7 linked regions of the Homo sapiens genome follow. The protein of the gene in region 1 purifies or fractionates together with the protein of each later gene. This does not show direct contact. Each region holds a gene or a part of one and is shown in the gene's direction. Other genes may lie near its edges. The genes, in order: CRYL1, SMG7, PIK3C2A, C5orf34, CEP164, HAUS5 and MYO9A.

Region 1 (3,500 bases):
CTGTATAACCTTGGGCAAATGACTTAAGTTCACTGCATCTCAGTTTCCCCATCTGTGAAATGGGGACAACAGTAACTGCTTCCTCAGGGTGGTGTGAGAATTGAACCAGATGGAAGCTCTTAGCTGGATTGCTGGCACCTGTTAAGTCCTTAATATATGTTATATTCAAACAGAGCTTTGTCTTGTTTCTTTCACGTACTACTTTTCTAGTTTTTTTCGTTGTTGTTTTATTTTTGGTTTTTAAAATTCTTCCAAAAAGATTCACAAGTGCAGAGAGAGGAATAAATACAGATTAGGATTTTATTTATTTATTTATTTATTATTATTATACTGTAAGTTTTAGGGTACATGTGCACAATGTGCAGGTTAGTTACATATGTATACATGTGCCATGCTGGTGCGCTGCACCCACTAACTCGTCATCTAGCATTAGGTATATCTCCCAATGCTATCCCTCCCCCCTCCCCCCACCCCACTACAGTCCCCAGAGTGTGATGTTCCCCTTCCTGTGTTCATGTGTTCTCATTGTTCAATTCCCACCTATGAGTGAGAATATGCGGTGTTGGGTTTTTTTGTTCTTGCGATAGTTTACTGAGAATGATGATTTCCAATTTCATCCATGTCCTTACAGAGGACATGAACTCATCATTTTTATGGCTGCATAGTATTCCATGGTGTATATGTGCCACATTTTCTTAATCCAGTCTATCATTGTTGGACATTTGGGTTGGTTCCAAGTCTTTGCTATTGTGAATAATGCCGCTATAAACATACGTGTGCATGTATCTTTATAGCAGCATGATTTATAGTCCTTTGGGTATATACCCAGTAATGGGATGGCTGGGTCAAATGGTATTTCTAGTTCTAGATCCCTGAGGAATCGCCACACAGACTTCCACAATGGTTGAACTAGTTTACAGTCCCACCAACAGTGTAAAAGTGTTCCTATTTCTCCACATCCTCTCCGGCACCTATTGTTTCTTGACTTTTTAATGATTGCCATTCTAACTGGTGTGAGATGGTATCTCATTGTGGTTTTGATTTGCATTTCTCTGATGGCCAGTGATGGTGAGCATTTTTTCATGTGTTTTTTGGCTGCATAAATGTCTTCTTTTGAGAAGTGTCTGTTCATGTCCTTCGCCCACTTTTTGATGGGGTTGTTTGCTTTTTTCTTGTAAATTTGTTTGAGTTCATTGTAGATTCTGGATATTAGCCCTTTGTCAGATGAGTAGGTTGTGAAAATTTTCTCCCATTTTGTAGGTTGCCTGTTCACTCTGATGGTAGTTTCTTTTGCTGTGCAGAAGCTCTTGAGTTTAATTAGATCCCATTTGTCAATTTTGGCTTTTGTTGCCATTGCTTTTGGTGTTTTAGACATGAAGTCCTTGCCCATGCCTATGTCCTGAATGGTAATGCCTAGGTTTTCTTCTAGGGTTTTTATGGTTTTAGGTTTAAAGTCTTTAATGGTTTATGTTAAAGTCTTTTATGGTTTAAGTCTTTAATCCATCTTGAATTGATTTTTGTATAAGGTGTAAGGAAGGGATCCAGTTTCAGCTTTCTACCTATGGCTAGCCAGTTTTCCCAGCACCATTTATTAAATAGGGAATCCGTTCCCCATTGCTTGTTTTTCTCAGGTTTGTCAAAGATCAGATAGTTGTAGATATGCAGCATTATTTCTGAGGGCTCTGTTCTGTTCCATTGATCTATATCTCTGTTTTGGTACCAGTACCATGCTGTTTTGGTTACTGTAGCCTTGTAGTATAGCTTGAAGTCAGGTAGTGTGATGCCTCCAGCTTTGTTCTTTTGGCTTAGGACTGACTTGGTGATGCGGGCTCTGTTTTGGTTCCATATGAACTTTAAAGTAGTTTTTTCCAATTCTGTGAAGAAAGTCATTGGTAGCTTGATGGGGATGGCATTGAATCTGTAAATTACCTTGGGCAGTGTGGCCATTTTCATGATATTGATTCTTCCTACCCATGAGCATGGAATGCTCTTCCATTTGTTTGTATCCTCTTTTATTTCCTTGAGCAGTGGTTTGTAGTTCTCCTTGAAGAGGTCCTTCACATCCCTTGTAAGTTGGATTCCTAGGTATTTTATTCTCTTTGAAGCAATTGTGAATGGGAGTTCACTCATGATTTGGCTCTCTGTTTGTCTGTTGTTGGTGTATAAGAATGCAGGCCAAAATCTCCTTAAGCTGATAAGCAACTTCAGCAAAGTCTCAGGATACAAAATCAATGTACAAAAATCACAAGATTAGGATTTTTGCTATGGCATGGAGAAGCCTCTGGAACCAGGTACCTAGAGTTTCCCAGCCGGGTTTGTTTCTTTGCTAAGCTTTAGACTCGCAGGTCAGTAGAGAGAGAAACCGCTCAGCCTTGTCCCTGGGGCTGTTTGGGTTCCTCCTGCATTTTGTTCCACTTGAAATGAGGACATCTCAGAATCTGGCAGCGTGGAAATCGCCTCCAGGGGAAGTGGATGTTTATTTACCATTTTGCCTCACAGATTTCCTCTCCTGTGTAGACACTTGCCTTTTTCAAAACTGAGATGCCTGGTGGCTGGTGGGTTTGGTTGATTGATGGGAAGCAATTATTTGCCAGCCAGTGGAAGCAGGTGAGCTGATGGGCGGGGACTTGCTGAGGTGAGGTGAGGGGCCCGGGTCGGTTCTGCCTCCCCTACCCTGGGCAAGTCCTCACTCAGGTGGGAATTTGATCCTGAGAGTAGGAATGAGATAATGTCGCTCTGTGCTTTGAGGCATTTTTGATCTTCCTTAATGAGTTCTGTGAAACCCTGTCTCTAAAAAGCAGGTGAATTCATACAGGTGTGGGTTCATAGCTGCGTGAAAGAAAACCGGACTTCCCATGTATGGGTGGCAATTAAGGCTCTCCAAGGAGCTGATGCCTGGAATCCCTCCTAGTGGCTGTGGCCTCGGGCTGGGGTTAAGGCCTCCTCTGGTGCCTGCTGCATACATGGGAACAGAAAGGATTCCTGCCTGTGCACCTGGGGCATTCAAACCCACTGTCCCTCAGAGGCCCACAGCCCAAGGCTCGCAAGTTAGAAAGCAGCAAGTTAAGCTACATCCAATCTCATGAGAATCAATTCTTTTTTCTACTCTTTGTCTTTTTCTGGATAAGCATCTCTTAAGAAATTAGGTTCAGAATCTTCTAAAAAGCCAAGCTCTACAAGGGTTTTGGAAGAATTAGAACTCAAAGGGACAGAGGGCATGGAAGCACAGAAGAAAAAATACAGGGGAGGCTGGATTAGATAGAAATAGTGGGGAAGGGCAGACCAGGGGATCAAAAGTGAAGTGGGCTGTGTTGTATTTTTCCTATTTCCAAAGAAATTGGCATTTTAGAGTAATTTACACCCAATTCTCCTCTCGTGGTGTAGAGAAGCCAAAATAATTGTTGAAAATAAATTACACCTCCCTAAAATGGAAGGGGAGGAGTTGCAAATAACAGTCACAGTCATAAGTTTACTGGGACATGGTTGTAAATAATCAGGCA
Region 2 (3,500 bases), on another chromosome or scaffold:
TGTGTTAGGAAAATGACTCTGTGTAATGTAGTGGTGGATAACAGAGAAAAGTAAGGTTGTTAGAGCCTGACATTAATTGGGGAGTGACTACTGCTTAGAAAAGGGGAAGACTTCAAAATTGGTCCTTTTTGTAAGGTTCTTTTCCTTACAAAAGATTCCCTTTGGGACTTTGGTCCTGAATAAGGTACTGGCAGTGGATCTAGAAAGTTATGAAAAACAAATTGGCAGAGTGGTGGTACTTTTAATGGGGAAGATCAGTGGACTTTGAGAGGCTTCTTGTTAATGTGCCTTATATTTTATAGCTTGACATGGTAGGGAAGACTTCCTTAGATGTGGAATCAATGATAGTTTGAGATGAACTTAGTTCTTTGAAGAAGGGAGAAAAAAAATGAATACAATGATATTTTTCAGCTAAAATTGAGCAGGCAAAATGGGGGAGGCATAGGTCCTGGGGTCCCTTAAAGATTCCTGGAGCCAGTCTTGTCTCAATCTTAGGCATTTGTCCTAAGTAAATTAAAACAAGTGTTAGAAGTCTGAGACCTAGGTGGTGGTTGTGGGAATCATAAAGGCTTGTGCCAGTCTGAATTTCCCTCCTCCTCTTTTAGATAATCATTCCATTTAAAGTCTGCAGTGGGGACACTAGAGAATGTCTTTAGGGAAGCATTATGTTCACGTTCTTTGAAAATAGAACTGTTGGTTTTTATAGACACTTCAGGGAGGATGCCGAGTATTGCTGAATGGATGTGGTTGGGGGGTGTAGCAATTGTTTTCGTGACCTTGACTTGAAGAATTTTCTTGCCTACCTTTGTCAGTGGTGGAAGATCATGACTGGGCAATTTTTAATCTCTATAGCTACAGATCCTGCCTCATGTAGATGAAAATTAGTTTTGTCTTGGCTGAATTTTAATTTGTTAGAGTAAATGAGCTGGGATGTCTGGCATTGAAATGGTGGGGTGGTGGGAAACCAAGGAGCAAGATGGCTGTTTCAGAAGGGTCAGAAATGAAGATAGGAGGCAAGAAGTCCCAGTAAGACCAATAAAGAGAGAATTCAACATCAAGGGAACTGAATTAGTCTCAAGTTATAAAAATAGAGCAGAGATGAAAGGAAGAAAACCTATCTTCTATGTGGGAAAGATGATGATATTCTGGGCAGGAAAGGATAATGAAATTTTTTGTTTGTTGAAAGGTAAGTATCTTTTTAATACACTGACAAGACTTCTAAGAGAATCAGTTAAGTTGAAAATACTTTGTTATGTTTTATAAAAATAAAAATATGATCTTAAATATGAGGGTTCTAGGCCGAATAACATTGGGAATTTATTACTCAAATTGAAGGAGAATTCAGAGTATTTTCTCTTTTGATTTATGACAGAATGAAAGATTTTAAAAGACTTTGACACCTCTGTTGAGTAAAAGAAAGGGTGTATTGAATACAATTCATTTGATGGGGGTAGGAGAAGGTTAGGATAGGCCGCAGGTGAGGTATAATATTATGCTTTAAAATAATGGCATTTTGAAAAAAAGAAAAGTGGAAATTAACATATCAAAGTTGGAAAAGCAGGAGTGGGGGAAGTATTAAAGTACCAGACAGAGAAGACATCAAAGTTGTTTTGGAAGATGAGAAAGTAGAATAATCATAGCTATAGGGAATACCAGTCAAACAGGTCAAATCCTGTTATAAAAGGTGGCACAGGTGCCACCGAATGACTTCTGCTGCCATTGTGGGAGCCACTGTTCATACTCTATGCTCCCTTCAACTTTCCTCCTTTTCTTCCTTCACTATTCTCTTTTGTCTCTAATTTCTTCCTATGCTGTGAGTGTTTCAGTGAGATCCACTTGAAGTGGATTCCTACTGTTAGACTCCTTTACAGGAAAGGTCCAGAAAGTATCTGTTTTGTTTTGTGTGTGTGTGTGTGTGTGTATGTGTGCATATGTGTATATATACATATATACATGTGTGCATATGTGTATATATGCATATATACACGTGTGTGCATATGTGTATATATGCATATATACATGTGTGTGCATATGTGTATATATGCATATATACGTGTGTGCATATGTGTATATATGCATATATACGTGTGTGCATATGTGTATATATGCATATATACGTGTGTGCATATGTGTATATATGCATATATACGTGTGTGCATATGTGTATATATGCATATATACGTGTGTGCATATGTGTATATATGCATATATACGTGTGTGCATGTGTATATATGCATATATACATGTGTGTGCATATGTGTGCATATATACATGTGTGTATGTGTGTATGTATACATATATGTATATGTGTCTATGCACATATGTGTGTATATATACATATATTTTTTGTATGATACATGTATAGTGAAGACGCTGCATCTCAGTGGCTCACTTGTCAGAAGTTTTGTTACTAATATAACAGCCACAGGGTTGTTTTCTAAGCCAGCAGAAAAATGGTTGTCATTTAAATAGGAAGTAAAATATCCAATATGGTATAAAATAAAAATGTATCACTATAAATCTTGAAACAGAGAGATAGTGGAGATAAGGCTGGATAAAGTAGCAAGCTAAGCCTTATCCTAGCCTGGGGAGAGGAACAGAGAAGATAGTGGGAGCATTGGGAGGAATATATAAATAGGATGGTCTCCAGGTTCTAGAAGAGTCTAGTAATGCTAGATCAGATAGTCACTGTATCCTGAAGCTTCTAGAAGTCTTAGAGCACATGCTGATTTTAGTCCATGTGGTCCACGAAGTCTTCTTCACCTGCCCCATCCCCTTCCTTTCCACCAGGTACATGCTTTACAGAATGTAAAGTAGCTTTTGTCCCGGAATATCAGCCAAAGGTGGTGACATTTTTTGAATGAATGACTGTCTCTTTAGGCTTATAAGTCTTTGTTATAACAGTGTTAATAGCTTATTACCTGCTTGGATATTGTCTGACTAAATTATTTTGGCAGTTAATTTCTGCTTCCCTTGTGGTTTCATTTGGATTCAAAATGTATACTTCCTGTCCTATCTTAGGTTTCATTTCTTTGCTTTCTAACAGCTGTGGTCTTCTGCCTTCATGGTAGAAGAAGCAATTGCTGAGTTTTATGTTGTTGTTTTTAATGGATGTGTTACAGTAAGATCTGGACCCACTAGTATTGCAAGTTTCATGAGGCAGTTTTGAGGTGGAGAGTGGTTCACACTTTAAAAGGGCTGGTGTGTTTTATACTTGAGAAAAATTGTTTCCTGCCTCCGGCTAGCCTTTCAAATTTTTGTATTAGTGTCATGAATGAGTGCCTGAAAGTTTAGATGGGTTAGTTTAATTGATCTTGTGTAGAGAATAAATTATAAAGCATACGTCTTGTAGATAGTGGATTATTCATCTGTTTGTAGGTATATTGGCAGATGGCCATTATATATTGCCATTAAAGTTTTGCAGTCAAGCCATATTTTAGTTTAGTTGCTGTATTGTTATGAATAGACTTATCAGCTGTCTGGGAAATTGTAACTAAGCA
Region 3 (3,456 bases), on another chromosome or scaffold:
AAGCCATTGCTGTTTTAAAGTCATTATGTAGAATGCTACAAACCCTAAACTTAATATATACTAATTCCTGAAAAAGACTTTGAGACAGTACTATGTCAGTTCAGCCACCTATTTTGCATTGTTTTCTATAAGGAGGCAAAGCATATGTGTTTTCCTGTTATGCACCTTTTATAGCCTTTACCACTGTGTAATGTTCACAAACACCAAAGTAAAGGAAAAATGCAGGATGTTACCGTAAAATCCAGCTGCTATTCATGGAGCTGAAAAACAAAGCACAAATAATAGATAGCTAAGTTAAGAACTACTAAGTAGTTTATAGAAGTAGGGAAAAACGTAATACTGCTTTTTATTCATGTCTTTAAAGCCTTTTTCAGAATAAGTGCCAATCACTGATGTTGTAAATAATGGTGCCTTAACTTTATATGCTTCCCTGGCACTTCGTTTCTGATTTTTTTCCTGATTTGATAAATAATTAGTACATAGTTTTCACTCACTTGCAGCTTACTAAAGACAAGAAATTATGTACATGTACTAATGTTTTTCCCACAAAAAAATCCTTTACTTCTGATGTATGAATTAGTTATCTAAATAGTTAAGCCTAATACCTGAATAAGACTCACCAATGTGATTGTACAATAAATTCTATCATTCCATTAAAATCCTACATTTATTCCCAGGAATGGTAATTTCACCTCCCTACATCTATACTCCACTCCCTCAGTAAATAAGTGAAAATTGTTAACCCATGTGCCCATTCCTGAGTAGGGCAGACTCTTCACAAGAGGCCCATGACAAGAATTCTAGGGTCCAGATTGAACTTTAATATAGACCTTTGTCTGTGTAGACCAGTTTGTCTTGTAAACTGTCTTACTTATGTGTGTAAACATTTTACATTCACATGAAAAGTTATTTTCCTTTATATAATTGGATTCAGAATCATAAGGGACAGGACTGAAATTATTCTACAGTAACCAGTAAGAATAAGATTCGGCCGGGCACGGTGGCTCCTGCCTGTAATCCCAACACTTTGGGAGGCCAAGGTGGGCGGATCACCTGAGGTCAGGAGTTTGAGACCAGCCTGGCCAACATGGTGAAACCCCGTCTCTACACAAAAATTAGCCAGGCGTGGTAGCGGGCATCTGTAATCCCAGCTACTTGGGGGGCTGAGGCAGGAGAATCGCTTGAACCCAGGAGGCGGAGGTTGCAGTGAGCCGAGATCACGCCACTGCACTCCCGCCTGGGTGACAAGAGCAAAACTCCATCTTAAAAAAAAAGAAAAAAAGAGTAAGATTCATTTTTATTAGTTACTCAACTTCAGACACAATTTTGTTAATTTGGATATATACATATATATAATAAGAACTCATGGTTAGAATAGAAATACAGATACTTTAAAAATGGTAATAGAAATTGTACCAATCAGGTTGCTGTGAGAAAACTGACAAAATATGCAATAAAGAATACCAAGAGAGAAAGGACAATCGCCAATTCAGTTTCCCAGAACAGAATTTTTATGAACTGCACAAATGTTTAATGTAAATGGTGATACCTACAGGGAAGAAATAGAAGAGTTGATAATATATCACTGGGACGGGGTGGGGGAAAGACTTGAAATTTTTGGTGCCTAACACTAATGGTCCATATGTAGTTAAACCCATGAGTATGGTATATGAATGTCTTTTTTAAATGTTAAAATGTGTTGTCTATTTAATGTTAATTAAAATGCAGATCAAAGCACCACCATTTGCTTTTTCCACAGATCATTAACATTTCCTTAAAGTATGTAAGTACCTTTGCAAATGCAAATGTACTAGTAATTTTCACTTAAGCTTTTGAGACCGAATTCCATTCCACCAGTTATCACTTAGCCACTGTAATTTAAAAACAAACAAACAAACAAAAACTGTCTTGGTAGAGGTCGTTAATTAGACTCAACATGTACTGCCTTTTTGCAGTCTATTATGACAGTGTCTTTTAGCACAAATAATAGAGCTAAAAAATGTCCTGTCACTTCCATTATAAGAAATCTGGATTCATATCTAAGTGTATATTATAATACTGTACAGTTAAGAGTTCAGAACAAGTGGTAATGTTTTCTCTTAATTTAACTCATTTTGTGCCTTCTTTACTCATTCAAACACACATACATTTTACATATAGTTTATTTCTTTATGAAATGCTAATCTTCAGCCCGTACCAAAAAGTAGAGTGGAGCCTCTTTGCACTACTACTATCAATAAATTTTAAATCAGTTGGATTTTTAAGCATTTTTTAAAAGCTGACATTAAAGTAAATCTAAAAAAAGTTTAACAAACTGGCCAAGACACTAATTTTTATGTATAATCACAATATTTTATACTCACCTTTATTGACTAAAAATAATTATGCTACATGTTGTCCTGCATCAGAAGAATTATTTCTTCTTGCCAGTGTTTTGGGATTTGAAGATAATGGTTCACTCAAAGAACCTATTATTTTCTCTACTGAGGAACCCAATGTAGAACTTGCACTGATATTTTTATTACTGCCTTTATATGAATCTATAGGTATCTAAATGTTAAGGCATGTATGATCTTTGATCATTTCTTTTTTCAAATTAAAGTTGTATAAAAGTTTCAATATCTTGCCTTAAATTAGTTGCCTATTCTTTCTAGGATTCAAATATTGTGACATTTAAAAAAGAAAACATTCACTTTTGAAACTTAGACTTCAGATCAAAAAGGACTGAACCCCCACTATCATAATCCATACATTCATTTCCATGTTGTTTGACTAGCAGTGCATATATGAATGAATATGGTAATTAATCTTACCTATAAGAACCAAATACTTTAATTATATTAAGATAGTGAATAAAGATGTATAATATTTTTATTAATACCTTGAATATATTCAGTGGATTGAATGTGACTTCATAACTGTACTACGATTGTATTAAAATATTTCTGGAATAAAAGAACTCTGCTATCATTTCTTTCCTTGTTGACATACTAACATTTTTGGTTCCAGACTTTGCAATGAGCTCACTCTTGATGTTCTTTGCATCTCACCCAGGAGTCTATTAGGTTTAATAATCCTGAATTTCAGAACTAACCTGTTAGTTGCCCCTAAAAATGTTCAAATAGAGATTCTGACTTCTGAGTGTTAACTCTTTTTTTTTTTTGAGACAGAGTCTTACTTTGTCTCCCAGGCCTGGAGTGCAGTGGCGACATCTCGGCTCACTGCAACCTCCATCTCCTGGGTTAAAGCGATTCTCCTGCCTCAGCTTCCTGAGTAGCTGGAACTACAGGCACACACAACCACGCCCGGCTAATTTTTGTATTTTTAGTGTAGCAGGACAAGCCGCAGACAAAACTCCTCAGACGCGGAGTTAAAGGAAGGGGTTTATTCGGCCGCGGGCATTGGCAAGACTCCTGTCTCGAGCCGAGCCCCCCCAGGGAGCAATTCCTGTCCCTT
Region 4 (3,500 bases), on another chromosome or scaffold:
AACAGTGCAAATCATAATGATAAAAACTAACACTTACAAAACACTTATGTGCCAGGTACTGTTGGACTTCACCCGTTTGATTCTCAAAGCATTCCCATGAAGTTAAAAAACGTATCATCCCTATATGTAGAGGAACTTGCGACATAGAAATGTTAAATAACTTGAGGAAAGGTACACAGCTAGTACTTGTAAAATTGAGATTTGATCCCAGGCAATCTCTGAGTATACATTTGTTATTTAAAACAAAAATATGGGAATGACTGTTAGGCTTGTCATGATTATCTGGTTAAAATGAGAAAAGTATTACGAGTACACATCAAAAGGGAATTATGCTTCAAAAGTAATGATTTTTCAATAACTTACCATGATGTTTAGGTTGAAATCCATGATCCTTCACATAGCTTACCAGGTCTTTTGTGACCTGGTCCCTTCCTATATCTGTAATCCTCAACTCTCTCACTACTCTTGCCCTTGCTTTCTCTATTCTTGCTAAGCTGGACTTTAGCAATCCCTAAAATGCTTGCTCAAGCACTCTGTGACCACTGCACCTACTCTTTACTCTGCAGGAGTGTTCTCTTTCTCTCTCAGCTGGCTAAATTATGCTCATTTCCAGGTTTCAGCTTAAACCTAACTTCTTTAGAGTGGTTTTCCTGAAGACCCTAAACAAGTTAAGTCCTATACAATTCCATAGCATGCAGTACTTGCCTCTTCTTTACACTCAATGTTTATTATTTAATGTCCCTGCTGAGGGCAGAGACCATGTCTACATTTTTTTGGTTGTTATATCCACAGTGTGTATAGCACAGTGCTTGGCCCACTATAGATATTTTAGTAATTTTTTTTTTTTTTTTTGAGATGGATTCTCGCTCTGTCACCCAGGCTGGCGCGATCTCAGCTCACTGCAACCTCCGCCTCCCGGGTTCAAGCGATTCTTCTGCCTCAGCCTCCTGAGTAGCTGGGATTACAGGCACGTGCCACTACGCCTAATTTTTGTATTTTTAGTAGAGACGGGTTTTCACCATGTTGGTCAGGCTGATCTCAAACTCCTGACCTCGTGATCCGCCCGCCTTGGCCTCCCAAAGTGCTGGGATTACAGGCATGAGCCACCATGCCTAGCGAATCCAGGCTAAATTTTAAATGTTATTAAAACTGTTAATTTATGTAATTGTGCTGAGATTCAATAATGAGATTATTGAAAATAGTGAAAAAAACATGGAAAAAGACTTGCTTTTTACATTTCATTAATATACCTTCATATTAATTTTTATTCTTTGATCTAGTGAGTTAAACAAGAAATTAATCCTGTTACAGTAGCAACATTTTGTTGACTTCTAAAGACAATTATATTGAGCAACCAGAAGTAATAGCTTGTATTTTATCCTTCACAGGTGGAATTTTTGTGATTCACTTTTACAGAGACAATCTGATGAATATTCCTATCCTGAACTAGTGAAAATGGTTTGGTACAAAGGTGTTACATATAGGTAAGGCACCTATGTTGGCTTCTATGTTGGAGTTAGAGCTGTTTATTGATGTCACAGAGAAGATGGGACGAGCCTTATAGACAGACTCTCAGAAGAGGACACAGTTCTGTTGGGCCAACTGTGCTCCTGTGTTTGATCCTGAGTTTTACAGGTCTCAAAACTAATGTTATTAGTGCACACAAGGGTCCTGTGACTCACTCACATTAACCATTTTTATAAGACTTATGTGGTACCTCCAAAGCCAATGAGGGATTGGTTTGCTAGTGAATGTAACATTCATATCAGTTATTTAGGATACTCCTTCCAAGCATTGGAGGATCAAGTTGTTTGAAATAGTCAAAACAGAATTGCTTGAGCATGGAATTAGAGAAGTTAGATCACCTAAGGGAGATTTTAGCCTTCATTCACAAAGCAAATACTCATTGAGTGGCCACTCTGTGCCAGCACTGTTCCATTGAATTATCCATACCCCACAACAAAGGACACCCTTCTAGTGACTAGAATACTAGTGTTAGCCAGATTGAGAGTTTCACTTCCATGAACAATGCTAGAAGAGCACTGCTAAATTTTTGGAGAGCGAGGGGGCTCTCCTTTTCCTATGTGAAGACCTATTCCTTCTAACAACATATTCTAACATGTATGTTAATAAAATTAACTTGGCTTAAGTTTCTATTTGGTATATACCCAGTACCTTGATTGTACCTGGCTGCTCCAGGTACAGCCATCTTTTCTTAGGGATAGCCCCTTGTGCAGACGGCTAATCTTATCCATAAAGTATTGATTCCGCTAGTTTCATTAATCTATTTTCAGGTTCTGGAAATGTTGTATTTAACACGTATGCAATAGACATTGCTTTGGTGACCCTTATATGCCAGCCTTGTGATTAGCAGTGGGGATATCAAGAAGATGATAAGACAAGATGCCTGAATTCCAGAAGTTCTTAGTTTAGTTGTTGAAATAAATGCATAAGCCAATTCTATTTATCTTTTCGTGAAAGAGTTAATTTAGCTGGTTGGGTTCAGAATATGAAATTATCTGCTTCACTGGACAGGCAAAAAGACTGTGTTGTTTTGCTTAGATTTTGTTGTTACTGTTTTTTGATGACTATCTTCATGCATGTTTTAATCTCAAGTGGAAAAAAATTTTTAATGGTTATTTCTATTTCTTAGACTTACCCATCAAAATATGAACTCAATAGAGATTTATTCTGGGGATGGATCTGTTTTCAAATCAGAAGGGGCTTATTTTGGGAACTATTTTACTTATTATTCTATTCAAGAAGGATCAGGAAAGGTAAGCCAACAATGAACTCAACTCAAGAAGAGTTTTGCTGTATAGCTCTTTCTAAATAATTCCAAATATATATGGGAAATTTGGTCATTATATAACATTGCTTCCTACTCCCCAGTCTGGAGTATTAATATAATCTTACTGCCAGCATTGGTACAGTAATTATTAACCACCTTATTTTTACTGTATTTTCACCTGCTATCTCCATTTGCCTAAGCAGTTCATGTTTAAATCAGAAACTTTCTTTTGTCATAGACTTTATTGATGGAAAATGCTGAAACCAGGACTTTGAGTTAATACACTACTTTGAATTAATATTTGTACATTAAAAAGCAAAAGCACATTCTTTTTTCCCCACCATGTAATTGTGTATTTTAAGCACCTCTTAACTTCTAAATCTTTATATACAACTAGACAGTTGAATAAGATTGTTCTCTGTTGCTGAAAACAGTGAAACATAACATGGTATAATTACCAGCCCATAGTCTTAATAATGTCAATATTTTGTTAATGAGTTTTAATTTGCTTATTGCCCCTCTGATATTTGACATCTACCATTTCACAGCAATCACTATAGTATCACACTACTTTGCATGCTAGAACAAAATAAGTATGTTTTCTCTCTTCATTACAGAGTGGAGTATTTAAATACTAATCAGATTATCAGAATCCCTAGGGAATAGAGTTAAAAATTGAGATTTTTTTAACTATGGAAATTTCAAACAT
Region 5 (2,957 bases), on another chromosome or scaffold:
GTCCCCATGCTCTTCCAGCTGGCATCCCGCTGCTCAGCAACAGCCCCACCCCGCTGGAGAGCAGGCTGGGTTACATGTCTGCCAGGTGAGCCTCCCTGGGGGCTGGTTGGGGTGGAACGTCATAGTCGAGCTGCTCACTGTGCCTCCCTGGGCAGGTGGACCTCTGAGGGGAGCAGACCTCCTGGTCTTACCCCAAGAAATCAGGCAGGCCTCTAGTCCACAGAGCTGTCCCCGCTTGCCTGGGTCTGAGGCGCCCCTCCATGACCAGGGGAAAGTCAAGTTCACACCGCCAAGGTCCCAGTGGGGAAGGGCTGGGCTTACCCTGCCAACCCCCTGAGGAAGCTGCCCTCTGGCCCCTGTGGGGAGGAGTCAGCCCCTGGTGGGACCCTGCCCCCGCCCCTCCCTCTAGCCCCTCCAGCCCCGGAGTCTGGCCTTTGTCTTTGCCCTTGAGCTCTTGTTTGCTTCCTGTGGCTCCCTTATTCCCCCAGTCCTGCTGAGCAACATCTGGAGTGAGAGGGACACCCTGTGGAGGAGACAGACGGGCAATTATTTAAACCTGTTATTAATTTTCCATTCATCTCATTCCTTGCCAAATGTTTTCCCCTCTCCCTCCCTTAGGCAGCTAACAGTGAGTACCCCCCACTAACCCTTTGGCCAACTTGAGAGCTGATGCTGGCCAAGGATTGAGTTGACAGAGGGGAGCGCTTTGCTGATGAGATTGGCGGGAGCAGGCGGATGTGGGAGCCCAGAGCCTTGTATCAGTAGCACCCAGCAAGGGGGCAGAGGGCCTCCACCACTTTCCCGTTTGGGAACTGTTCTGGAGGGGCAGATGTTTTGAAGCTTTGAATTGCTAGGGACCTCGGAGAAGCTGCTCTGGTAGCTGAGAGAAAGAGGGAGGAGGTGACAGATGTGATGGCCTCTGTGCATCCTCTGTCACTTCCGCGCCTCCTCTCTCCCCTCGCCATGCTCTCCTCTTCCTTCCCAGTGAGCAGCTCCGGCTCCTACAGCACTCCCATTCGCAAGTCCCTGAGGCGGGCAGCACCACCTTTCAGGGCATAATTGAGGCCAACCGGAGGTGGCTGGAACGTGTCAAGAATGACCCCAGGTTGTATCCTTTTACCTGGTTCCCAAACTGGGCTGGGCTGTGGGGACTGTGCTTGTGCCCTGAGGGGCTGAGGAGGATCCTGTTCAGCCTTTGACCCTTTCATGGCCCCTGCCTGGCTATGCCCAGCGACTGCAGTTTTCCTTCACCTTGTGGCCAGACCTCTCTTCTCGTCAACACCCAAGCCAAAAGCTACTTTGAGCCTCCTGCAGCTGGGCCTTGATGAGCACAACAGAGTGAAGGTGTATCGCTTCTGAGGCCCTGAGCAGGGGCTTGGGGCAGCCCAGCCTCTCCTCCACCCAGACCAAGTGCCTGAGGAGCTGCCTGCCTTCTTCCATCTGAGAAAGCACCCTCCTTCCCCCTTTGACTTGCAGGAGCCACCAGGGACCAGGGGGTTGAGTGGAACAGTAAAGCCACACATTCTGTGACTATATAACCTATCTCAGGCTAAAATGTGTGGACTCGTACGAGCTCTTGTCATTGACATGGCAAGCTGATGGCGTGCGGTGGCTGCGGGGTATCAGGGCCGGGAGCCCTTTGGGAGGAAGGGAGGCGTTAGAGGAGCTGCCTTCGGAGGCTCAGGGAGTCCCTTTGGAGCTGGTTGTTTCCTTGGCCCTGCAGCGCACTGCTCGGGGCTCCCAAGGAGGTTGTGTGTATGGTTCTTAATTCATCAGGACAAAGACCCCCAGCATGTGTGTACCCTGGGACCCGATTTCTCTGGGCCCACATCTATCTCCAATACCTCAGCCTCAGATCAGACCCTTTCTTTTTTGTCTTTCTTCTCTTAATTTTTAAATGCCTCTTTTCTTGAGCATTCCATCTCTCTTTTTGACCCTCTCAGGACTGGGCTTAGCTGTCCAGAGCCCTGCCGGAGGGTGCTGGGGGCTGTCCCTCTGCAGGCACTGTGTTTTCCTCAGGGGCTGTCCTCAGAACACCCCTCCTGCTCCCTGGGGCTCCTCAGGGAGCCATTTCAGCTGGAGTCTCAGGTCTCAAAAACAACTTCTCCAGGAGGCCAAAAAAAGACTGGGTTGGCTTCTGGTCCTCATGATGGCTTTTATCCTCCTGGGACACTTTGGGTATATTCATGGGCATTGTTTCCATCTGTCTTTTCTACCTGTGCCACCCCTGCCCTGATTCCACGGCTGCCTCAGGCAGGCAGGCAAGGAGCTAGGCCGGTGCCCGGCCCTGGCAGCAAGGGGTCTTTGTGCAGTTGGAGATGCTGCCGTTGTGGCAGAGCGTCCTGCAGCCCCGCTTCCATCAGCAGGCTCTGGGGTGGGGGCTTTGCAGGGGATGCTCTCTGATGTTTGTTCCGTTGTTTAAATAAAATGCACTTATTTTTGTTTTTTTTTTTGCAAGCTGTGGGGTTGCCCTTGCTTCTCTGACACACAAATTAACTCCTTCCGTCCTCCAACTCATTTCGTGGTCATGGAATAAGAAACTAAGATCCAACTGGCTGTTGATCTCCTCAGATGCCTTTTAAGCATCAGCCCACTACATAGAAAACTCCGTTTCATCATGTGTGCTTTGGGAATAGCTTATGTGGTGCACCAACTCTAGTGATAATCCTGGGTATTTTCTGCATCATTTAAATCTCTGCAGGTCCATTTTCTACAAGGCAGTCATGTAAATGTGTCTCCTTCTTTTGGGAGGCCTTTGCCTCCTTCCTGAGAAGGGAGGAAGGAAAAATGAATATTCATAGAACACTGCCCTATGTAGTATCTGATTTAATCATCGCAACAATGTAGATATTGATGTAGATATTTTCTCCTCTGTTTTTATGGACGAGGAAACCAAGGCTTAGAGAACCTTTACATGCCTGGGGTCCCCAGTAAAGTAGCTGAGCTCCCTACATGTG
Region 6 (4,177 bases), on another chromosome or scaffold:
CCACCTCCTGCCAGATCAGGAGCGGCATTAGATTCTTACAGGAGCGCAAACCCTATTGTGAACTGTGCATACGAAGGATCTAGATTGCGCACTCCTTATGAGAATCTAATGCTTAGGCGGGGCATGGTGGCTCACACCTGTAATGCTAGCACTTTGGGAGGCTGAGATGGGCTGATCACTTAAGGTCAGGAGTTCAAGACCAGCCTGGCCAACATGGTGAAACCCCGTCTCTACTAAAAATACAAAAATTAGCTGGGCATGGTAGCGGGCGCCTGTAATCCCAGCTACTCAGGAGGCTGAGGCAGTAGAATCGCTTGAACCCCGGAGGCAAAGATTGCGCTGAGCCGAGATCGGGCCACTGCACTCCAGCCTGGGTGAAAGAGGGAGACTTCACCTCAAAAAAAAAAACAGGGAAGAAAAAAAAAAAGAGAGAGAGAGACAGAGAATATAATGCCTCACGACCTGAAGTGGAACAGTTTCATCCCGAAACCATCCACTGCTCCCACCCTCCATCCCCCAGACTGTGGAAAAATTGTCTTCCATGAAACCAGTCCCTGATGCTCAAAAGGTTGGGGACTGCTGGTCTAGCGCAGACCTCTCACACCTGCTGTGTCCCAAATTGACCCACCCCTGCTGCTTATTTTTACCACCCCTACCTGGTGGTGCGTCTGTCTCCCCACTCAACTGTGAGCTCCGTACAATAGGGACCAGGGCTGTTGTGGTCACCATGGTGTCCCCAGCATCACCCAGCACAGGGTCAGCTCCCTGAGTTTATGGAATGGTAAGCACGAATGAATGGGAAAACGCATGCCAGGGAAATGTTAGGGTCATGCTCTCTGCCCCTACCCTCCACTCAGACATGAGACACCTGTTTCTGAAATCAAAGAGCAGTAAGTCCAGGATCTCATTGCCTGGTTCCAGTCCTCCTAGGACGCAAGTCCCATTTTGTCAAGAAAATAAAGGGGGTGAGCGTGGTGGCTCACGCCTGTAATCCCAACATTTTGGGAGGCCGAGGCGGGAGGATCGCTTGAGCCCAGGAGTTCAAGAGCCCAGAAGCTGAGACTAGCCTGGGCAACAAGTGAGATCCCATCTCTATTAAAATAAAAGTGTTTAGTTAAAAGAAGAAAAAGAAAATAAATGGAAGCATCAAGGACTGTTTTGCCTCTTTCGGGTTAGCTGGTAGTGAGCGGGAGAACGAGGGAAGGCGGGCGGGGCTGCAGTCTCTCCACGCCCTTTTCATTTCCACTCAAGGAGACCTACCTGGGAAGAGTGAGCGCTGCAAGACCCAGCCTGACCGCGCTAAGATTACTATGCAGCGCCCGAGCCCGCTGTCTGCCCGGCAACCGATGACGTCACTGTTGGCGCGCCCGTGACGTCAGAGGCGGGCGCCACACTTGAAGAGGCTGAGGGAGGCGGTGTCGCCGCCGCGGCGCTGTCATGGAGCTAGCGCAGGAAGCGCGGGAACTGGGTTGCTGGGCGGTCGAAGAGATGGGGGTGCCCGTGGCGGCCCGGGCCCCGGAATCGACGCTGCGCAGGTGAGGACCGCTCCTGGAGTGAGGACACCCCACCCTGGAGATTGAGTCTCCGGGAGTGAGAACTCCACCCCTCATTGAGGACTCGACTCCCCCCAATTCCCCATCGAGAGTGACCCGACTTACTGAGGGCTCCCTACCCTGGGAGGCTCCCCAGAGTGAGGTCCCTAGCACTGGTGAGGATCCTCCACGAGTTAGCTAAGACCTCGCTCCTTATGGAAATAGGATCTCCAGAGTGAGGCTGTCCCCGCAGCACCTCCCCTCCCTCCCTTAACCTAACCAAGAAGGACACTCAGGAGTTAGCCGTGGCCACCCCATCGGGGATTGAAGCTGTAGGAGTGATGCCCCACGTCTGGTCATGAGATGGCACTTCCTGGCAGTACATCCCCCACCTCCACCTCTGGATGTGACTGGGATAACCCACTCCCAGGAGAAAGGGAGCACCCGCCTCTCCCGCGCTCCCCCACCACCCGCCTTCCCAGGGAATGAGAATAACACCACACTTAGTGCAAACATCCAGTCCCTACAAAAAAAATGTTTTACCAATTAGCCGGGTGTAGTGGTGCCTGCCTGTAGTCCTAGCTACTCTGGAGGCTGAGGTGGGAGGATCGCATGAGCCCAGGAGGTTGAGGCTGCAAGGAGCTATGATCGTACCACTGCGACAGAGCGAGACTGTCTCTTAAAAAAAAAAAAAAAAAAAAGGCAAAAAAAAGTTTGGGCCTTCCCTCCTCAAGAAGTGAGAACTCCCTAGTAAAAACTCCCTACCACCATCACCCTAGGAATGAGGATCCCACACCCTGTGTGCTGCCCCAGGCATATGCTTACACACTGTCCCCACAGGCTGTGTCTGGGCCAGGGGGCTGACATCTGGGCCTACATCTTGCAGCATGTGCACAGTCAGAGGTAAGCTGGGCTAGAGCAGGGGAGGGGGCACAGGTGAGGCCCATAGTAACTCCTCTTTCTGCCTCTGCACTGTAGGACTGTCAAGAAGATCCGGGGAAACCTACTCTGGTAACTGCTTCTTAAAGCTATCCCCTCCTGTCTTCCCCACTCCCATTTAGCCCTGTCCCCACCACAGCATCACACCTATTGCCCTCCCCCCTAGAAGCCCCACTCATCCGCTGACTCTGGCCTCGTTTTCCTAGGTATGGCCACCAGGACAGTCCACAGGTGAGAAGCATATGCTACAAGATTCTCTTTCATCCGAAAAATGACTTGTAGATCTTCTGCTCTAAGCCCAACCAGGTGCTGGGTGATGCTGGGGACAATGGGTCACAAGACAGCCTTGATCTCCATCCTCATAGGGCTTAAAGTCCAGTGGAAACAGCATTAGCTCAGCCAGGTGCAGTGGCTCACACCTGTAATCCCAGCACTTTGGGAGGCTCACCTGAGGCCTCATCTCAGGTGATGAGATCACCTGAGGGCTCCAGGAAGCGATCAGTACTGGGACAAAGATGTGGTTTGGGAGGCGGATCACCTGAGGTCAGGAGTTCGAGACCAGCCTGGCCAACACGGTGAAGCCCTGTCTCTAATAAAAATAAAAAATTAGCCAGGCGTGGTGGCACACGCCTGTAATCCTAGCTACTTGGGAGGCTGAGGCAGGAGAATCGCTTGAACCTGGGAGGCAGAGGTTGCAGTGAGCTGAGATCGCACTACTGCACTCCAGCCTGGGCAATAGAGCGAGACTCTATCTCAAAAAAAGAAAAAATAAATAAAGAGCATTAATTAGCTGGGCGCAGAGAGGTGGGACCTGGATATGTGGCATCAAAGCTGGTGAGAAGAGATGATGGGACAGGTATGGGAGAGATGCTGAGGCCAGTGTGGGACCCAATGGGTGCAAGGGGCTCATATGACACCTAAGGGGAGGCTTCCAGGAGGCCTTGGGACTTCTAGGTGCAGGGCTCCGGGAAGAGATCAGTACTGGGACAAAGATGTGGTTGTCACCAGCACAGACAGGAAACAGGCTGGAAGTGTGGGTAAGACAATCCTAGGAGGAAGGAGGGAGGGAGCCAATACCCTAATGCTTCTGTGTCAGACACAGAAACTGCTGAGCAAAAACCCTCTGCCACCAGTTGAGGAGCCTGGTACCCCCAAAAGACAGGCCAGGCTGAGCCCCGATCAGACCATCTGACCCTGAATCTGATCCTCCCAGGTCCGTCGGAAGTTAGAGCTGGAAGCTGCTGTGACCCGCCTGCGGGCAGAAATCCAGGAACTCGACCAGAGCCTGGAGCTGATGGAGCGAGACACTGAGGCTCAGGGTGAGCCATGGGGCCAGAAGATGGGCACCAGAATGTGGGGCGGGAAAGGTGCTGATGGCCACCCCTGTTCCTCCCACAGACACGGCCATGGAGCAGGCACGTCAGCACACTCAAGACACCCAGCGTCGAGCTCTCCTCCTCCGGGCCCAAGCTGGGGCCATGCGAAGACAGCAGCATACGCTCCGAGATCCCATGCAGCGGCTGCAGAATCAACTGAGGCGCCTGCAGGACATGGAGAGGTGGGCCTCAGGGACCCACCCTCACCAGGCTGGGTGGCCAGACATTCTCTTAGAGACCTCAGGGCTCTGCCCTGATCCCTTCTTGGGTTCCAGAATTCTGGAACCATTAGGATGGAATGTCCATGAGGCCAGGAGGTTTTGTCATCTC
Region 7 (3,500 bases), on another chromosome or scaffold:
AAAAAAAAAAAATTGGGGGTAATATTTGCCTCATAAGACTATCATTGGAGTTAAAAAAATTTTTATGTAAAGCACCAAGCATATAGTAGGTACTCAGTAAGTCTTCCTTTTCCCTCTTGAATACGTCTATTTCCTGTTTTATTTATTAATTTTTTTTTTTTTTTAAGACAATCTCACTCTGTCACCCAGGCTGGAGTGCAGTGGCGCAATCTCGGCTCACTGCAACCTCTGCCTCCTGGGTTCAAGTGATTCTCGTGCCTCAGCCTCCCGAGTAGCTGGGACTACAGGTGCACGCCACCATGCCCGGCTAATTTTGTATTTTTAGTAGAGACAGGATTTCACCATATTGACCAAGCTGGTCTTGAACTCCTGACCTCAAGCGATCTGCCTGCCTTGGCCTCCCAAAATGCTGGGATTATAGGTGTGAGCCACTGTGCGCAGCCTATTTCTTGTTATGTTTAAATGTGAAATCAATAATTTTTTTTTTTTTTTGAGATGGAGTCTCGCTCTGTTGCCCAGGCTGGAGTGCAGGGGTGCAATCTCGGCTCACTGCAAGCTCTGCCTCCCAGGTTCACGCCATTCTCCTGCCTCAGCCTCCCGAGTAGCTGGGAATACAGGCACCTGCCACCACTCCCGGCTAATTTTTTGTATTTTTAGTAGAGACAGGGCTTCACCATGTTAGTCAGGATGGTCTCGATCTCCTGACCTTGTGATCCGCCCGCTTCGGCCTCCCAAAGTGCTGGGATTACAGGCGTGAGCCACCATGCCCGGCCGAAATCAAGAATTTTAAGAATTTCACTGTGTGGCTTTTAGAATAAATGGCTAATCAAAGTTTGTTGCTAAAAGAAGCAGATATTAGGGCAGTCTGTCTACTAGTTGTCTTTCAAGTGTGATTTTTTTCAGTTAAAATATTTCTTGTGGCATTGGGGCATTTAAAAAATATTTTTGAAAAAATACTGCAAAGAAATGCTTCTCTTGATGTCTTAGCATATAAGATTAATGGATTTTAGAATGTATTTGATTCAGTGTGAGTTATCATAACAAAATGTGTTCTGTTTGTCAATGACAAACATTCCTTAAATAATTGACAGATTTTAGTACTATTGCTGTTTGTAGTGTGTAAGTATTTGTTTGAAATCTGTTTATTTTTATTGATCAGATGATAGTGGGCTGAGTAATCTCTGGAATTTTCTTTTTTTTTTTTTTTTTTTTTTTGAGATGGAGTCTTGCTCTGTCTCCCAGGCTGGAGTGCAGTGGTGCAATTTCGGCTCACTGCAACCTCCGGCTTCCGGGTTCAAGTGATTCTCCTGCCTCAGCCTCCCAAGTAGCTGGGATTACAGGTGCCTGCCACCGTGCCCAGCTAATTTTTGTATTTTTAGTAGAGATGGGGTTTTGCCATGTTGGCCAGGAAGGTCTTCAACTGCTGACCTCAGGTAATCTACCTGCCTCGGCCTCCCAAAGTGCTGGGATTACAGGTGTGAGCCACCACACCCGGCCTGGAATTTCCTTTTTGTTTTTTTCTTGAGACAGCATCTCACTGTATTGCCCAGGCTGGACTCAAGCTCCTGGGCTCAAGCAGTCCTCCCACTTCAACCTCCTGAGTAGCTGGTACTACAGATGTGTGCCACTACGCTGCCTGGCTAGATTTTTTTTTTTTTTTTAATGTAAGGGAGAAAGTTCTTAGGTGACTGTGTGGACATGTTTATAAACGATTTTTAGATTTTTTTTGCCTTATTTATTTATTTATTTTTTTGTGAGACAGAGTCTTGCTCTGTCGCCCAGGCTACAGTGCAGTGGTGCGATCTTGGCTCACTGCAGCCTCCACTTTCGAGGTTCAAGTGATTCTTGATTCTTGTGCCTCAGCGTCCCAAGTAGCTGGGATTACAGGTGTGTGCCACCACACTCAGCTAATTTTTGTATTTTTAATAGAGACAGGGTTTCACCATATTGGCCAGACTGGTCTCAAACTGCTGACCTCAAGCGATCCGCCTGCCTTGGCCTCCCAAAATGCTGTGATTACAGGCGTGAACCACTGCACCCGACTAATATTTTTGTCTTATTTTGCTTTTGCAACTCTGTTTTCTTTTAGTTCTCTTTCTTCCCTCCCCTATTGTTTTATAATTAAGATCTTAAAGAAATAGAAAAGTTGGAAGAGAACACTAATTATGTCTATCAACTAGATTCAAAAGATAGCGTTATGCCATCCATATTTGCATTATTGTTCCCTGTGTGATTGTGTGTGTGTATTTTTTTTTTTTTTTTAGACAGAGCCTTGCTCTGTCACCCAGGCTGGAGTGCAGTGGCATGATCTTGGCTCACTGCATGCTCCACCTCCTGGGTTCACACCATTCTCCTGCCTCAGCCTCCCGAGTAGCTGGGACTACAGGCACCCGCCACCACGCCTGGCTAATTTTTTATATTTTTAGTAGAGGTGGCGTTTCACGGTGTTAGTCAGGATGGTCTCGACCTCCTGACCTCATGATCTGCCTGCTGCCTCGGCCTCCCAGAATGCTGGGATTACAGGCCTGAGCCACCACGCCCGGCTGTGATTGTATATATTTTTGCAGAACCTTTTGAAAGTAAGTTGCGGCTGGGTGCCGTGACTCACATCTGTAACCCCAGCACTTTGGAAAGCCGAGGCAGGTGGATCACCTGAGGTCAGGAGTTTGAGACCAGCCTGGCCAACATGGTGAAACCCTGTCTTTACTAAAAATACAAAAATTAGCTGGGCGTGGTGGTGGGTGCTTATAATCCCAGCTACTCGGGAGACTGAGGCAGGAGAATCACTTCAACCTGGGAGGTGGAGGTTGTGGTGAGCTGAGATTGCACCATTGCCCTCCAGCCTGGGTGACAAGAGTGAAACTCTGTCTCAAAAAAAAAAAAAAAAATGTATGTGTCATGACAAGTTTACTGCAAAATACTTCGTATATATTTTCTAAGAAATACATATTTTTCGTATCACCAGTGTGCTATTACCAACACCTAGGAAAAATAATACCCTAATTTAATATTGAATTTATATTTGAATTTTCCCAACTGTCCTGAAAAATGTTTTTTTCAAAAGAGAACTCACTTTTAGTTTTTGCATTTCATTTGATTATCTCTTTTTAGTCTCTCAATGTAGGAAGTTCCTTCCCACATTTCTCTTCCCTGTGACATTGAAATGTCTTTGAAGAGACCAATCATCTTGTAGAATGGCCTGTTTTCTAGAGTTTTCTGATTGTTTCTTAGATTGTTTAACTTGTTCTTCTGGTGCTTGTATGTCCTGTAAACTGGAAGTTATATTGTAAAGGATTGAATAGATTCATATTAAAAAGTTTTGGCAAGAACACTCTGTAGGTGATGTTGTATATCATGTTGTGTGTTAATGGGAGGCACATAATGTCAGCTGTCCTCCTATCAGTGATGTAAGTTCGATAGGTTTAAGGTGGTGTTTGCTTATGTCTCCATTTTAAAAGTAAATTTTTTCTCCTGTTATGTACAATAATCTGTGGGACTGA

Evidence for each region.
Region 2: the proteins of CRYL1 (region 1) and SMG7 purify together in Homo sapiens (affinity purification with mass spectrometry; 2 studies listed by BioGRID and IntAct, with this or other methods). This does not show direct contact.
Region 3: the proteins of CRYL1 (region 1) and PIK3C2A purify together in Homo sapiens (affinity purification with mass spectrometry; 2 studies listed by BioGRID and IntAct, with this or other methods). This does not show direct contact.
Region 4: the proteins of CRYL1 (region 1) and C5orf34 purify together in Homo sapiens (affinity purification with mass spectrometry; 2 studies listed by BioGRID and IntAct, with this or other methods). This does not show direct contact.
Region 5: the proteins of CRYL1 (region 1) and CEP164 purify together in Homo sapiens (affinity purification with mass spectrometry; 2 studies listed by BioGRID and IntAct, with this or other methods). This does not show direct contact.
Region 6: the proteins of CRYL1 (region 1) and HAUS5 purify together in Homo sapiens (affinity purification with mass spectrometry; 2 studies listed by BioGRID and IntAct, with this or other methods). This does not show direct contact.
Region 7: the proteins of CRYL1 (region 1) and MYO9A purify together in Homo sapiens (affinity purification with mass spectrometry; 2 studies listed by BioGRID and IntAct, with this or other methods). This does not show direct contact.

What each region holds. Positions count from the first base shown.
Region 1 is NC_000013.11:20,407,358-20,410,857, reverse strand, and holds part of CRYL1 (lambda-crystallin homolog), read left to right. Parts: intron 1-3,500. UniProt on the Homo sapiens protein: Has high L-gulonate 3-dehydrogenase activity. It also exhibits low dehydrogenase activity toward L-3-hydroxybutyrate (HBA) and L-threonate.
Region 2 is NC_000001.11:183,475,499-183,478,998, forward strand, and holds part of SMG7 (nonsense-mediated mRNA decay factor SMG7), read left to right. Parts: intron 1-3,500. UniProt on the Homo sapiens protein: Plays a role in nonsense-mediated mRNA decay. Recruits UPF1 to cytoplasmic mRNA decay bodies.
Region 3 is NC_000011.10:17,086,075-17,089,530, reverse strand, and holds the end of PIK3C2A (phosphatidylinositol 4-phosphate 3-kinase C2 domain-containing subunit alpha), read left to right. Parts: 3' UTR 1-2,956; downstream 2,957-3,456.
Region 4 is NC_000005.10:43,501,649-43,505,148, reverse strand, and holds part of C5orf34 (uncharacterized protein C5orf34), read left to right. Parts: intron 1-1,388; coding exon 1,389-1,484; intron 1,485-2,653; coding exon 2,654-2,777; intron 2,778-3,500.
Region 5 is NC_000011.10:117,410,810-117,413,766, forward strand, and holds the end of CEP164 (centrosomal protein of 164 kDa), read left to right. Parts: intron 1-18; coding exon 19-85; intron 86-488; coding exon of another isoform or gene 489-513; exon of another isoform or gene 514-985; coding exon 986-1,108; intron 1,109-1,262; coding exon 1,263-1,359; 3' UTR 1,360-2,457; downstream 2,458-2,957. UniProt on the Homo sapiens protein: Plays a role in microtubule organization and/or maintenance for the formation of primary cilia (PC), a microtubule-based structure that protrudes from the surface of epithelial cells. Plays a critical role in G2/M checkpoint and nuclear divisions.
Region 6 is NC_000019.10:35,611,358-35,615,534, forward strand, and holds the start of HAUS5 (HAUS augmin-like complex subunit 5), read left to right. Parts: upstream 1-1,377; 5' UTR 1,378-1,437; coding exon 1,438-1,535; intron 1,536-2,372; coding exon 2,373-2,435; intron 2,436-2,510; coding exon 2,511-2,543; intron 2,544-2,677; coding exon 2,678-2,702; exon of another isoform or gene 2,703-2,777; intron 2,778-3,684; coding exon 3,685-3,790; intron 3,791-3,869; coding exon 3,870-4,029; intron 4,030-4,177.
Region 7 is NC_000015.10:72,108,151-72,111,650, reverse strand, and holds part of MYO9A (unconventional myosin-IXa), read left to right. Parts: intron 1-3,500. UniProt on the Homo sapiens protein: Myosins are actin-based motor molecules with ATPase activity. Unconventional myosins serve in intracellular movements. Regulates Rho by stimulating it's GTPase activity in neurons.